2 separate regions of the Homo sapiens genome follow, and region 1 is linked to region 2. The links come from fine-mapping of genetic effects on plasma protein levels. Region 2 holds a variant in brackets. A gene starts in the other region. All regions are shown on their reverse strands.

Evidence for each region. A credible set is the group of variants that fine-mapping cannot tell apart. PIP is the chance, under the fine-mapping model, that this variant and not a neighbour inherited with it causes the effect. Protein levels are from antibody-based Olink assays in UK Biobank. Linkage for the fine-mapping came from a reference panel and not from the study's own genotypes, which makes the PIPs less certain.
Region 1: it holds the start of BMP10, and the variant in region 2 is the best candidate, but not a certain one, in a credible set for the plasma level of the BMP10 protein (UK Biobank, PIP 0.81).

What each region holds. Positions count from the first base shown.
Region 1 is chr2:68,867,393-68,875,729 of GRCh38, reverse strand. BMP10 (bone morphogenetic protein 10) reads left to right here and starts at 4,333. Exons shown (of 2, transcript NM_014482.3): 1 at 4,333-4,705. The coding sequence starts at 4,372. LOC105374792 (a long non-coding RNA gene) reads left to right here. Exons shown (of 3, transcript XR_940227.3): 3 at 54-189. RefSeq lists a silencer at 4,357-4,517.
Region 2 is chr9:92,257,125-92,265,461 of GRCh38, reverse strand. It overlaps IARS1 (isoleucyl-tRNA synthetase 1), which reads left to right. Exons shown (of 34, transcript NM_002161.6): 16 at 339-533; 17 at 2,407-2,493; 18 at 5,228-5,311; 19 at 6,464-6,608. Among named protein-coding and RNA genes, the nearest start is that of MIR3651, 31 kb to the left of the region's middle. The variant T/C (reference allele first, on the strand shown) is at 3,686.

The DNA.
Region 1 (8,337 bases), not on the chromosome of region 2:
AAACTATACCTTTTCTCAAGGTGATAATCTACATGCTCTGTTGCATCTCTCAGGAATGAGTGGCAGAGAAGAGCAGAAGAGAGAGCCTCCAAGACTCAACTACAGTCCCCAAAGTCAATCAGCATAAGCATTGGCAAGGATGTGGAACAACACGAACTCTTGCTGGGAGACACAGGATTGGGAAAACCATTTTCGAAAACAATTTGGCATTATGTAAAATTGTTGGAGTCTTTTCTGACTACCAACCAGCAATTCTATTCTGATATTTACTCTTACTAAATAAAGTCTAGACTTGCACTGTCCAACATGGTGGTTATTAGCCAGCACAGGCTGGAGTGCAGTGGCGTGATCTTGGCTTACTGCAACCTCTGCCTCCTGGGTTCAAGTGATTCTCCTGTCTCAGCCTCCTGAGTAGCTGGGATTACAGGTACATGCCACCATGGCTGGCTAATTTTTGTATTTTAGTAGAGACGGGGTTTCACCATGTTGGTCAGGCTGGTCTCGAGCTCCTGACCTCGTGATCCGTCCACCTCGGTCTCCCAAAGTGCTGAGATTACAGGCGTGACCCACCGCACCTGGCCGAGAATCTCTTAAATAGAAAATAACAGTAAGATTATTCACTGTAGTACTGTAAATAATGAGAAAAAAAGAAACAAAGTCTCTATCAACAGTATAACGTACAAAGAAATTTTTATGTATTTATAAAGCTGACAACAATTCAGTGAAAATCAATGAACTCAGCTACAGGCATCAACAAGTGTGCATTGGAAAAATCCTGTTGAGTGCAAAAAAGTAAGTCTTGGAAGAAAACATATAACATGATTCAATTCATATATAAGTTAAATGGGCAAAACCCATCGTATAGCTTGTTAAATTTTTTTTTTATTATCACACCTGGTCCTGAGAAGGTAGCAGGAGTAATGTAATGCTTCTGAAGTGGGATCCAAGGTAGAGAGGGTTCCAAGAACCTAGAGTCATGTTCAAAGACCTCCTGACTTCATTGGCCTCTTTTCATTCAGGATAATTTTATTGGTTGCATTTATTCAGGGGCTGTGCACTACTCACAGGAAACAGCAGAATTCATCAGGATGCTGTCCAGTGGCTCTGACCATGTCTGGATCCCAGATCCCTTTGAGAATCCAATGAAGTTCAATGTTAGATTCTTTAAGTTTGTACAGTTATGGAACTAGTTTTAAAAACTGGCCCAGAACTTTGCAAATCAGAGGTTCTGGAGCATTTTGCAGTGGGGTGGAAAAGCATAATGTGTAATTAATATTTTGCTTTCCACATGTATGGGTTCTTTTAAAACATCTAAACATACCTTTTACATCTTTGGCTCACGAAACTGCCCATCCACTCTGAATGAACCGTAACACATTCCAAATGAGAAGGATACAAAATAATGAGATAAGTGCAAAAGAATAGAATGAATTGCATCCAGAAAGATCAAAATAGGGGTAGGAATGTAAAGACATTTGGACCTTTTAGGGTCAGATGAGAGTCATCAGAAAAAGCTTCTAGAGAAAAATATGGGGATAAAGAGACTCTGCAGCTAAGATGTGAGGTGTCCCAGGCCTGGAAGAGGGAGAGAGCTTATGTCCCCTTCCTCCAAGCATGAAGCCAACCTCCTTCCTTGTCCACCCAGCACAGGTATGGGTTTAAGAACCTTCACCAAGCATGCGTCTCAAGACACGCTGATATCTTGAAATGTCTGAAATATGGCTATAGTCATTTTCCTACTGTATCTTTTAATCATCCCCAAATATCAACATGGATCCAAATATTTGACCCTGTAGTTTTTCTAACACCAAGTACAGGGAAGCCAGTGAAGTCTCAGTTAATGTTTTTATGCTCAAGAATGTAAAGAACTAGAACTCCGCAATGTGGGATGCATGTCTCTCCCCGTGACCTTTGAAACCAGTGTGCTCAGGGGTTGTAAGTACCACCACTTACACTGCTGTCCTGTGGCAGTTACACGCACATGCCTGCATTCAGAGTTTTGGAGTGTGCGTTGACATCTGTGTGTGTGTGAAGATAAATGGGTGCCTGTTTGGATGCAGGACATGATACAGGGCATTGCTGGTATGCTGTCAGAAACCTCATGTGAAAACGAACCACCCGAAGGACGGCTTCTGGCCCTTGGAGTCACTCACTCACTTGTGGGACTGTTCAGGGTATAATCTGTCTCCAGTCTACAATTGTCGTTTTACTATGGGAATAGAAAGTTTGAATCAAAATTGAACATTGAATCAAAATCAAAACTATTAAACAAATAGACAATTAACAACTACTAAACAAAATATGGTTCTTTCTATGGTAATTTAAAAAATGGCTGTAACATTGTACATTTTAGGAGGAAAAAGAATCAAAAGATGACTAGAAACCTAAGTGAGCCTGGAGAAAAAGTTAAGTGGAGACATTGTAGCTAAACGATGAGCATGAATATAGGAAAATTTAACCTAGAAACTGAGAAAGGATTCCAGTGAACCAAATATCTTGACACAGCCCTTGGAACACAGCACCAGGACGCGTGAGTAATGGTGTGCACGTCAGAAAGATACCAGAACTACCACCTCAGTGGGAAAAACATCCCCTGGGCTTGTCCGCAGGGCCTCTCTGGCTGCACCCCGGCTGCTACTGTCACTAGTTAGAATGGAAAATGTGATGAACCTGATTTGTCTTTCCTAATCTGGACACACAATCGATTCTACCATTTTTATTTTCAGGACCAAGGCATTTGGCGTTTTTTGTGTGCCTAGTAATGTTGTTTGCCGAGTGTATTAGTCAGGGTTCTCTAGAGGGACAGAACTAATAGGGGATGGAGATATATTTCTGAGTTTATTAAGTATTAACTCACACGATCACAAGGTCCCACAATAGGCTGTCTGCAAGCTAAGGATCGAGGAGAGCCAGTCCAAGTTCCCCGACTGAAGAACTTGGAGTCCCATATTCAAGGACAGGAAGCATCCAGCATGGGAGAAAGATAGGCTGAAAGTCTAGGCCAGTCTCGTCTTTTCACGTTTTTCTGCCTGCTTTATATTCTAACCGTGCTGGCGGCTGATTAGATGGTGCCTAGCTAGATTAAGGGTGGGTCTACCTTTCCCAGCCCACTGATTCAAATGTTAATCTCCTTTGGCAACACCCTCACAGACACACCCGGGATCAATACTTTGCATCCTGCAATCCAATCAAGTTGACAGTAAGTATTAACCATCACACCAAGCTTTTGCTGGAGCCTCTTGATGACAATTTTGATTGAGTCAGAAGGATGAATTTCGCAGAGATGTTGGTTATATTAACAACTCATTGCACAGATGGAGGACCTGAGGTCCACATCCAGCTACAAATTTCTGCCTGCCTCCTGCCTCCAGGCTGATCTGGGGACGTGTTGGCCTCTCAGCATTATTGCCCATGCCCTAGTCTGGTAGAAGAGTGGTTTAAAAGTGTGACTGTTTTATTCTTCATAAGAATCAGGCTGCCTTGGTTGAAATTGTGGCCCCATCACTTTGCAACTTTGTGGCCTCTGGCAAGCTATGGCACTTCACTGACCCATATATGTGATGGAGATAATGATACGGTTATTACAGGAGCACACTTGATGATAGGTGTAAAGCACTCAGTACAATGCCTGTTTGTAGGAAGCATCTAATAAATTCTAGTTGCCAGTATAACTAAGCACTTGCCCTATTTTTCAAATGCTATTTTAGCCAGATCAAATAGGTAGGAAAAAGCCTGTCAATCATGAAGTTTATACTTTCCTGTTTCTAAAAAGGTACACTTCTAAAAATTTATATAATTCATTTATAGCTATTAACTTAAACTTGGAAAGTTTGGATATTTGGTCTGTCTTCACAAGTGTTTATCTGAGCCCTACCTCTCAAATTAACATGTATCACCATTGATGTGCATTATGTTGATTCTTATACCTATTATATGCATGTGTGAAACTAAGCCCCATAAAAACAGAATTTAGGCATTCCTGCTGAAAGGAAGTGAATTGAAGGGAAGAGAAGCAGAGCCTTTGCAAAGAGAAAATTGTCCTATCTCTCAACCAGTGTCAGAATGTGGAAATGTTTACAAAATGCTCATTAAAAGAAATAGGGATTGCAAGATAGAAACAAATTCTGGTGCACAAGTTTACACTAGGGAGATAAGAAAGGCTAGGCCCCTATAGGGGATTTTGTTATCCAATTACTGCAACCTGACTTTTAGGGGGAGAGGAAGAGTGGTAGGGGGAGGGAGAGAGAGAGGAAGAGTTTCCAAACTTGTCTCCAGTGACAGGAGACATTTACGTTCCACAAGATAAAACTGCCACTTAGAGCCCAGGGAAGCTAAACCTTCCTGGCTTGGCCTAGGAGCTCGAGCGGAGTCATGGGCTCTCTGGTCCTGACACTGTGCGCTCTTTTCTGCCTGGCAGCTTACTTGGTTTCTGGCAGCCCCATCATGAACCTAGAGCAGTCTCCTCTGGAAGAAGATATGTCCCTCTTTGGTGATGTTTTCTCAGAGCAAGACGGTGTCGACTTTAACACACTGCTCCAGAGCATGAAGGATGAGTTTCTTAAGACACTAAACCTCTCTGACATCCCCACGCAGGATTCAGCCAAGGTGGACCCACCAGAGTACATGTTGGAACTCTACAACAAATTTGCAACAGATCGGACCTCCATGCCCTCTGCCAACATCATTAGGAGTTTCAAGAATGAAGGTAAGTTTTTGCTGATGAAATTTTGCTAGGATTTTTTTCAAGACACAATAAGTAAATTTACAATGCATGGGAATGATATAGGTAAGGGTAAATACATCTATATAAGGATGTTAAATACATATGGATACACAAAAACAAGGCACATTTTGTTCTATACCAATTATATAGTCATTTCAGGAACCTCGAAAAATACTTACAAACATCTTTTAATCCAAAGCCACAAAACATCTATCAATTTGACATCATAATTGGGTCCTTTTAAAAAATGTTAATTTGAACACCAAGTAATACAAAGAATTAATGTTGGTCTACTGCCGTACCTTTGTCATTTTCCAAATAGGCCTTGATTGCCATATGGGCTTTTAATTAACTAAAAAATTTCTCAACTTCTACTTAGAATAAAAAGGGTAAAAACAGTCAAAAAACATCAAATTGTGATTTGTGTTTTGTTCAAACTTTTGATAAGTTTTTATTTTGTGACCTTATTTAAGAAATGTTCAAACAGGATGGAAATATATTTTAAAGATTCTTCCTAAGGCTGTGTTGTTTGATGTGTCATGTACATCCTTAAAGCACTGTTTACAGTTTCCAGGAAGTGTAGATGGCCCATTAATCATCCAGCTCATCATTTCCGTCTTTATAAAGAGCAACGTACAAGCTTTGAATTATTGGTGGGAAAAGTGTGTTTTCTTCTCTTAGGTCTTTAAATTTGGTAACTAAATCTAATGAGCTAGCAAGTTAATGTTTTTGTTTGTTTGTTTGTTTGTTTGTTTTTTGGTTAATATGGTCCTAGTAGGAAAAAAAACCCCTGATATCTAGATATCTATAGTAGAAGCTGAAGGTCCAAAGGAACTAATTTAATTTTTGCCAGTTATGCTTTTATAGTCACTAACCAGGTATAAAAGAAGCTTCCCGTTAATATTGGCCAGATGTTCTTGAAAGAAGAAAGGTAATAGTGAAGAAATAGCTCAGGATTTGGGATTTTGAGAGCTAGTTGGCTTAGTGGTTGTGAATAATTAGCTGATGCCTCAGAGCCTCAATTTCCTCATCTATAAAGTGGGAGTAATAATACCTACATAACATAGTTGAGTGACTCAAAGGAGGTTACAGATAAGAAAGCACTCCATTTACTATGAAGTGCTGATCAAACTTTAGTGACTACTAATGAGTTACTTAATATTCTAGGTACTGGAATAAATGTTGAGTAGGTATTCCTTAGTCCCTAAGATATTATCTCCCTTTAAAATTGAGTTGGCTGCCAAAATTTATAATTCATAATATCTTTCTCATGGAAATGGCAAGTTGAGATTACAGATTGCTTTTGGAGGTGAGTCTGAATTGAAAATGAACAACTTCCTCCTGTAAGAACCCTCCCTAATACTTCTCAGCACTGAGCCCTAAGTGTCTGGCTCAGGGTGTGGGTGAGAAAATGTTGTTTGCATCCCCTGGAAAACTAGAAACGTTTTCCGTTCTCACTTCTCTCATAGAGTATCTGGATGATCCAGGTCAGGATGTGGAGTTTACTGTGCTTATTATTACTGGAGATTATTGAGGGCAGGAACACATCTCTTAGTAAACAACCCAGCCGCCAGCACCTCTGCCAGTCTGCAGGAAATGTGCAGCCTGAGGACAGAAATCGCACAGGACATGCCCTGTTGGCTACTATTGCCTCTCTTCTGACTCTTTGGATCTGCTTAGTGCAGCTCCCTAGGAGAGAAAGACCAAAAAAACTCCAAACCTACCCCATCTTGGGAAAAAAAAGTGCCACCTCCAAGGTGAAAAAAGCGTGCTCCTTTATCACCTTGTCATTTGGGGAAATCAGTTATCTGCATCAAGGCTTGATTTATTCTGGTGCAAAACGAGTAGAGAATCAATACCTGCATTATGGGGTCATTGTGAGAACCAGAGAAGATCATGCTTGCAAAGCACCTGGCATGAGAAATTTGTCAACAAACATTCGTTCTCTTGCCCTGAAATGTAACTCTTCCATCTATTGCTTACTGCATTTGCACATGCACAGAACTTCACAGTGAACTTACTTTTTCAAAACAGCTTTATTGAGGTATATTTGACTTATAAAAATATGACATATAAAAATATTGATGTATAAAAGTATAATCGCACATATTTAAAGTGTATAATTTGAAAGGTGTTGACATATGTAACATTCATTGAAACCATCACCACAATCAAGATCATGAATATATCCATTAAAACCAAAAGCTTCCTTGTATACTTTGTAATGCCTTCCTCCCACTACAGTGAGCTCTTATTTTATACTTTTCTCCTGGGTAGAGCAACCAGCCTACTCTTCCATGTTCCCTGTCCATGGGGAGTCAAGTCTCTTCCCTTCTTAGAGTGGAAGAATAACTCCCAAGCCCAACCCAAGAGCTTGATGATGGATTAAGGTCATATGTCACGCCCATAAATCAATTTAGTCTGGTGCCTAGAATCATCAACTAATCAATATTTTTAAAGCACTACCTCTGTTTAAGCCATCATAGTAGGATAGAGACATAGAAGGGAGTTTTGAGCCATTCAAACCAGGAGGATGGCAATCTAGTTGGGAAAATCCATTCATAAAAAGATGGCTGAAATATAAGGACGTAAATGACAAGGATCAAAGGAGATATAAAGTGATCAAATGATTTCAGAGGGGAGAGGAGGGAACTTTCAGATGAGAAGTAAGGGAGGCTTTTATAGGAGATGTCAGAGCTGGATAGGTGGAGGTGAGGTGAAAGGGCTTTCCAAGGGTCAGAAGAACATGTGAAAAGGTGAAAATTGCAGGGAAAAAAAGAGTGTTTTGACAGGTGGTAAAGATATCAATGTAGTTAAAACAGAAGGGTTTACAAATCCATTCAATTGTTCACAAATATTATTGAGTAATCACAATGTTCCATGCACTGTGGAGGACGTATGTAAGCTATGGCTGATCAGGAGGTTAAGACCCAGATATAGCTGGTCTTGAGAGCCATGCCAGGGAGTTTAAATTTATTCTGTAGGTCAGCATTTCCCACTAGCAGTGTGTAAGATTAATTTAGGTGGTACCCAAAGAAAGCTATTAATCATGTGAAATTATTGTATATTTTTCTTAGTATGGATTTTTAGCAAACACACATAAATATCACCTCAAATCTCTCCTTTAATGAATTATGTTGCTTAGGAACAGTCTAAAATAGATAATAAGTATAAAATAATTAGATCAAATTAAAGAAAAATATTAAAAGATTATAATCTGAAACAGGGACTCACCGAGATCATGAACTAAGTATAAACTTGGGGAAATGCTGCCAATGATGACAGAGAACCCCCAGTTGGTGGTCCTTAGCATCTTCGGTGCCATGGAGTCCTTTGATAATCTGATGGCAAATGCCTTCAGGGCTTCCTTGTAGACTCATTACCTGAGGCAAGTGTGCAGGAGCTTTGGGCTCACTGTGAAATATTCAGATAGGAAGTCAACATGATCGTATTTGGAAGTATGCTTCTAAGACTAAAGGACTTTTACAGAGTTGATTCATAAACATTATTGAGTGAGTTATACATGTCACGCCCCATGCCAGGTGCTAGGGGTACAAGACTAAGGCAACCAATCTAGTCCCAGGATTCATTTTCTCCCATTCCTCTTTATAGAG
Region 2 (8,337 bases):
GATTCACTTCAGTTTTACGATTCTCCTATTAAGACCTGGTCTCTAGCAGATTACAGAGCCACACATGGAAGTGACTAGCTTGCTGAATTACTTTGCTGATGACTCATGTCATATTGCAGTATTGTGGCCTCTGTCCTTGTGAAATGTGAGGTGAATGGTGCATAACCTTTCAGATGGAGGATTCATGGTGCTCTCTGAAAGCCTTTGAGAATTGCTGATATTTCTGTTTGCAAATGTGTATAATATCTTGTCAGGGTTTTGTGTTTCCTATTAGCAATTAAACTGCAAGTTCTGTTATGCTTACAGTTAATAGAAATGACTACTTTTCTGTTTGTTAGTGTTGACCACCTGACCATTCCTTCACGCTGTGGGAAGGGATCCTTGCACCGCATCTCTGAAGTGTTTGACTGTTGGTTTGAGAGTGGCAGCATGCCCTATGCTCAGGTTCATTACCCGTTTGAAAACAAGAGGGAGTTTGAGGATGCTTTTCCTGCAGATTTCATTGCCGAGGGCATCGACCAAACCAGAGGATGGTATGCCTCCTTGTTCTTTCATCACGTGTTTTATTGATTTTATTTTATTTAGGGAGTATTTTACTAAGTCACTGCCATTTATCTACTGGGTGATGGAGAGATTGTGGCAAATAAGACAGGCTACATTCCTGCCCTCTCCCCTCCACCACCAAGCACGGACATTAAAGTGCCTTTTGAGTAGGACTCTCCCACTACAATAGGGCTGTAGTTTTACAATTTCAATGATCTCACTGGCATTTTGGAATATATGTGTTACACTGGATGTTAAAATGATAAAAAAAGTTATGTGTTCTTAGCTTACGTCAGATCATTTACTCAAATGTTTGAGTATTTGCATAAAAGACAGTAGTTTGGGTGCTAGAAATTTGAGGGATAGTTGGTAATGTGCTCAGATATTGAGGCTAGCCTTATAAATCAACATTCTAAAAAAATCCAGATTTTTAAAAAATATACATATGAGAGAGGATTTGGGCATTGATTTTTATCTGGTGCCTTATGTAAAACAGTTCCTTAATTGGAAGAAGGTGAATTACTTTCTTTCCATGGATTGGCTTTGCTGGCCCAGGCTTTATTTACTTTTTTTTTTTTTTTTGAGACAGAATCTTGCACTCTGCTGCCCAGGCTGGAGTGCAGGGGTGTGATCTCGGCTCACTGCACCCTTCGCCTCCTGGGTTCAAGCAATTCTTCTGCCTCACCCTCCTAAGTAGCTGGGTCTACAGGCATGCACCACCATGCCCAGCTAATTTTTGTAGTTTTAGTAGAGACTGGGTTTCACCATGTTGGCCAGGCTGGTCTCGAACTCCTGACCTCAAGTGACCCACCCGTCTCAGCCTCCCAAAGTGCTGGGATTACAGGCGTGAGCCATTGCGCCCAGCCCAGGTTTTAATTATACATTCACAGTAATGTTTCTGCAGGGGTGTGTTAAAGGAATTGTTGGTGTCATTTTCTCTCTTTGACAGCTTTGGGTAATCATTGAATTCAAGTCTTCATGTTCTGGAATGTGCTGTCTTCAGATTCCAGTCCTTTTTGTCTATAGGAACAGCTACCCAGCACAAATTCTGTTTTTAGAAAGGGGTAGATGCCTTACCAATGAGCTTGTTCCTTTGAGGAGTAGCAAAGTCTGTTAGCTGGTAACAGTCCTCATGTGGATCCCGTGTCCTTGGTGCCTGCCTCCTTCTCCATTCCTGAGGCCTGGGCTACCTCTCCTGGGCACCAGGGCTCCTCCCAACTCTCCTTTAGAAGTGGGAGGGATATCTGGATCAGTGTTTATGTTAACTATGGGGTCTGGTCTCCTCAGCTCATGTCCCTTGATGTTCTCAGAGTGCAGGACTAGGTAAGAGAGGCAGGAAAGCATCACCCCCAGGACAGTGGTCAGGGATATGAGTTCATTTGGGAAACAAGCTAGGTAGCACATAAATGAGGTACATAACATTTTACAGAATAAAAGCATTTTCTAGTCTGCCTTATCACTTTTGGGTGAGAGTGCATTTTGCATCTTTTGTCATCAAATTGTCTTTTCCATATGATCTTGTGCCAAATTCAAAACCCATCCTTCATCTTCAGCTAGGTGCTTCTGGGTGGTCCTGAGAGGCCACCCAGTGCTGCCATGTGGCTCTCCACACAGACTTCCTGGGAGCTCTGGTAACAGAGAAATGGTCAGTAAATCATTCCAGACGTTTATTTCAATGCTTCTTTCAAATCTTAGACAGTAATTTGATTGGTCTCCAGTAACCAGGATTAAGAATCATTGCTTTAAGTGATTCTCAAGAAGTGTGACTTATCAAAAATAGAAATTCAATGAATAAATACAGTTTCTTTCTTATGCTTGGACTTCATTTCTATTTTTATTGAACTGTTTGGGGTTTTTTTTCAGGTTTTATACCCTGCTGGTGCTGGCCACGGCCCTCTTTGGACAACCGCCTTTCAAGAACGTAATTGTGAATGGGCTTGTCCTGGCAAGGTAGGTCAACTTTGTTGTAGTGACGGGTGGAACTTTGTCTCCACTGTTTCTTAAGAAGGAGTGCGTGAGAGCGGTCAACTTTGTTGTAGTGACAGGTGGAGCTTTGTCTCCACTGTTTCTCAAGAAGGAGTGTGTGACAGCTAAGCCTGATGGAGGAGGAGGAAGGGGAGGACTTTCAGATTGTGCTACTGCTAGTAACATAATGCTACTAGTGATATTACTAGTAATAAAATAGCATTTACTAAACTTAGCACTTTATGAAATACTTTTGCTTATAGATCTTATTTAATCTGTACATCAGTCCTTTCATGTAGATTTTGTTGTCCTTTTTTTAACACACGAGGAAGCTGTGGGTTCTAGAGACCACAGGTGCCCAGGATCAAAGCTAGTGACAGCCACACTGGGCTTGACCGAGGTACTCTGCCACCAGATCCCATTCTTCCCCTCATCTGAAACTTCCTCCCAATGGGCATTATTTCCCACATTTTGCTATTATAAGGAAGTCTCATTTTTCCTTTACTTTATTACCTCTAGTCATTAAGAATAAAAATAAACATAAATGAAAATTTTAAAATGAAATATTTTAAAATAGAATTTGTGCTGAGTACCCACACAGAAATCCTACTTTATATGCTGTGTGAGGAGGAAGAGGATGTCACCTAACATTTTGTGCATCCTTATTTTTTGCCAGGCCCCACTGTGTGCATTTTCACATTTTAACTCATTTAATCCCCAGAACCATTTGAGATGGGTCCTATAATCCCTTTGTGACCTTTGAGGAATCTGAGGGACAGGAAAAAGTGACTTGCCAAAGGACACACAGCAAATGAGTGGTAAATGCAAATTTTGAACCCAGGCAGTCTGCCTCTGTAGTATGTGTACTACTTTTTTTTTTTTTTTAATTGAAAATTTTATTGAGGGCTGGGTGCTATGGCTCATGCTTGTAATCCCAGCCATTTGGGAGGCCATGGTGGGCGGATCTCCTGAGGTCAGGAGTTGGAGACCAGCCTGGCCAACTTGATAAAACCCCCGTCTCTACTAAAAATACAAAATTAGTGGGTGCAGTGGCACACACCTGTAACCCCAGCTACCTGGGAGGCTGAGGCACAAGAATCGCTTGAACCTGGGAGGCAGAGGTTGGAGTGAGCCAAGATCATGCCACTGCACTCCAGCCTGGGTAATAGAGTGAGGC[T/C]CCATCTCAAAAAAAAAAAGGGGGAAATTGTATTGAGATCATTGTAGATTTGCATGCAATTGTGAAAAATAATAGAGATCCCTTAAATTCTTTGCCCAGTTTCCCCCAGTGGTCACATTTTGCAAAACTACAGTATATATCACAACCAGGATATTGATATAGCCCACTAATCGTATTCAGATTTCTCTAGTTTTACATATACTTATTTGCTTATACGCATTTACCTGTATACGGCTATCGTGTGTAGGATCCTGTATCCAGCAGCACAGTCAGGTTACTGAATGAATTCAACATCAAAGGCTCCCTTCCTGCATTGCCTTCCCCTCCTGCCTTCCCACTGTCATCCCCAATCCCTGGCAACCACTGGTTTTTTCTCCATCTCTGTAATTTTGTCGTTTCCAGAATGTTATATAAATAGAATTATACAGTAACTAACTTGGGGGAATTGGCTTTTTTTTTCTTTTTTTTGAGACAGAGTCTCACTCTATCACCCAGGCTGGAGTGTAGTGGCGTGATCTCGGCTCACTGCAGCCTCCACCTCCTGGGCTCAAGCGATTCTCCCATCTCAGCCTCCCGAGTAGCTGGGACCACAGGCATGAACCACCACACCCAGCTAATATTTTGTATTTTTGGTAGAGACAGGGTTTCACCATGTTGACAGGCTGGTCTCGAGCTCCTGAGCTCAGGCGATCCACCTGCCTCGGCCTCCCAAAGTGCTAGTATTACAGGCATGAGCCACCGCACCCAGCTGGCTTTTTTTAAATCCACATAATTCCATTGAGATTTTAGATGACTGCACCTACCAATAGTTCCTTCCTTTCCATGGATAAATAGCATTCTGTATTATGGGTATGCCATGGTTTGTTTGATCATCCACCTCTTGAAGGACATCTGGGTTGCTTCTAACATTTGGCAATTGTGAATAAAGCTGTTGTGAACAATTGATAATAGGTTTTTATGATAATGTAAGTTTTCATTTCTTTGGGATATATTCTGACACATCTTTCTTCTTCAGTCTACCCTGAAGCTTCCTCATGGACTTAGTATGATATTCAAAAAGAAGTTTGCAAATATTAACAAAATATCTTACCATTGTACCTTAACACTGTTTGTTTCTTTTTTGAGACAGAGTCTTGCTCTGCTGCCCAGGCTAGAGTGTAGTGGCGCGATCTTGGCTCACTTCAATCTCTGCCTCTCAGGTTCAGGCAATTCTCCTGCCTCAGCCTCCCCAGTAGTGGGGATTACAAGTGTGCGCCCCCACGCCCAGCTAATTTTTGTATTTTTAGTAGAAACAGGTTTCACCATTTTGGCCAGGCTGGTCTTGAACTCCTGACCTCAGGTGATCTGCCTGCCTCAGCCTCCCAAAGTGCTGGGATTACAGGAGTGAGCCACCGCGCCCGGCCTATTAGCACTAACTTCTATCTAAGTTACTCCTTCCCATTTCATTTTGTATATTCCTGTTTGCAAATGATTTGTATCCTTAAAACAAGATCATCTGTGATATTGACTTACTTAATTGGCATCTCCCTTTTGTTTTACAAGTGATGGCCAAAAAATGAGCAAACGGAAAAAGAATTATCCAGATCCAGTTTCCATCATCCAGAAGTATGGTGCTGATGCCCTCAGGTACAAACCAGTGCTTTGCCTTGTGTGTATCTATTGTTTTTTTATGTAAGCATCTCCTATACTATTAATCAGTATTCTTAGATTTGGTTTATAGTTAGGTTTTTAGCAACATATCTCTGTTATTTGGATGTTATGTTGGTATGGTTGTTGATTTTAAACCCCCAAAATAGTTTTCTAAATAATAAAGGCATTTTTAAACCTAGAGGTCTGTTTGAGGAAGAGGACCTGTGTTGGGTGTTGTTGAGCTGTCCAAGTCCTCCCCAGGCTAGATGCTGATTGCCTCTGCCTTACTTCCTTTCTAGGTTCCCTGTCTTGTTGGTATTAGAATTCTCTTTCATCATTTGTTTTAATTTTGTACTTACAGAGCCATGTGAGATATATCTATGCTAGAGGTGATAAAAAAACTCATATTGAAAAGCTTTTGGAGAAATTTGAGCCACTGCTTGAGGTAGCTGTAATCATGAAACCACACAGTGTTCAAGTTGAAAGGGACCTAGAGATCTTGTTCAGCATCCCTGTGTCCTAGGCATGAGACCAGTGCCCAGGCCTGTGACTCAGCACCTTCACACAGTACCTCTGTTGACCAGGAGCCATTAGTGGGGCTCTCCCCCAATTCTCCACTGTCTCTTAGACTCACCCTTGGCACTGCTGCCCATTTGGGCTGTGTAATTCTTTGTGGTGGTAGTTCTTTGTAGGATGTTTAGCAGCATCCCTAACCTCTGCCCACCAGATGTCAAGACTCTGCTCTGTGAAGGCTCTTCCTTGTGAGTCCCTCTCTCTGCAAGCAGCAGATGCAGGTCGTGTCCGTGGGAAGGACACAGTGGCTCTTGACGAGGACCAGGCCAGCCTTTCTCTTAGTGCTGGTGTACCCCATTGGTCCTGCAGTGAGAGTGGCATAAGATGCATTTCTGTGCTATACAGTGCCATATTTTGGTGTCAGATTATATACGTCTTTTATAATTTGCTAAGTCTCTTATAGAAAGTGAGAGTGAGTTTTGTGAGTTTTAAATTGACCACTCAAAGAGTATTCATAATTACCCCCTTTTGTAGAAAATAGGACTGATTTTCATCTTGCTCTCTCAATATGTCGAGTAGTAATAATTGGTTTACTGTCTAAGTACCTTTTCTGTCTAATTTTTCTCCCTCTTCCAGATTATATCTGATTAACTCCCCTGTGGTGAGAGCAGAAAACCTCCGCTTTAAAGAAGAGGGTGTGCGGGACGTCCTTAAGGATGTACTGCTCCCATGGTACAATGCCTATCGCTTCTTAATCCAGAACGTTCTGAGGCTCCAGAAGGTATGGGCTGTAGGGGGCTGCACATGTACCTGCCGTGTCTCCACAGCGCTCCCTTCACCAAGCTGTGAGGTGGAGCTCTGTGTGAGACTTTAGGGCTGCTGTTCTCTGCTGCCTGATGCTGGGGTAACTTAGAGCCATGGGGAGGCCATACATGCAGGTGCGGAAGGTATCTAGGGTCCGGGCTATGCCAAGACCATGGGCCCTAGCCTGCAAAAGAGTTATGTCATATAGTTGTTTAGTCGCCAGTTGTTGTTTTTGTTTTTGAGGTGGAGTCTCAGTCTTGTCACCCAGACTGGATTGCAATAGCACGATCTCGGCTCACTGTAACCTCTGCCTCCTGGGTTGAGGCACTGCCTCAGCCTCCCCAGTAGCTGGGATTACAGGCACCCACCACCATGCCTGGCTAATTGTTTTATATTTTTAGTGGAGACTTGGTTTCATCATGTTGGTCAGGCTGATCTTGAACTCCAGACCTCAGGTGATCCGCCCTTCTTGGCCTCCCAAAAGTGCTGGGATTACAGGCATGAGCCACGGCACCCAGCTTCGTCAGCCAGTTCTTGGTACCAGGAACACCATGTTGAGTGAGACACCCCTCCCCTTATGGAACCAATGGAGTGGGAATTGGGAGATACAGTAAAGAGTCAGCAACTTTTAGAGAGAGCACCCAGTGAAGGCGGAGTCACAGGCAAGCTAGGGCTGGCCACTTGAGATGGGTGGTCAGAGAAGGCCCCTCAGTGGGGTGGCATTTGGGCTAATCTGAGAGTGACAGCAGTTCTCGATGGAGTTTTCAGTGGGTTGTTAGGGTCACATATAATAGTTGTGATGTATGTGGAAGTGTACTTCAATGGCAGTTACCTCCACGCCCAGGAGTTACTTTCTCACCTGAGAAGCCCTTGCTCTAGAGCCACCTTCCATGCCCCACAACTGACCATTGTCAGCGTCCATCACCTTCATTGAACATGTTCCTGTATGGGCTTTCAAGACCTGATTTGGGGTCAGAGTTCCGATACTGCACATCTGATCTCCAGCACCTTACAAGTAAAATTGCTTGTAAGTAAATAACTGTTGAATGAAAATGAGATATTATTCCTGCTTGAGCAGATGAAAAAGCTGGTTGGAAAAATGAACTCTTGTTATCCCACTCCAGCAGGCAGGTCAATTACTTCTGCTCCCCTTGGGCTCTGGTTGTTCTGCTAATGAGGACACATCATGTTCACCTGAGGCTCTCAGAGTAGCCTTTCCCCAGGAATTGAGAAGGGCAGTCATCTTCCCCAGGCTCCCAGCATTCCTCCTCTCTGCAGCCTGCCACCTGTCCTGCATGTGGTTCTCTGCCAAGTAGGGCAAACAGTCCTTGGGCAGGTGCACTCTGCAGGTCTCCACTGGTGTGGGACTCAGGAATACAGGCGGGGTCAAAGCTCCCCACAGCCAGGGCCCATCTGAATATACCAGCAAGACACAGACTCCATGATCAGGGCCTTAAACACAGAGGAAGAGTCACATTATCACTGCCCCGCTAGCCTGGTTGTGGTGCTGCCAGAGAAACAAAGCAGGACATGAGTTCTGTTTGTAGAGCAAGGACTTAAGATCAAGGAGGATTTTGCAAAGCAAAAAGAGTGGGATAGAACTTTCTGGGTAAAATGAACAGCCTTAGCATGGAAATTATTTCCCAGTACTCATTTTCAGTTTGTGGACAATCATTCAATCCTAGACAGTTCTACTGTCCTTCCTT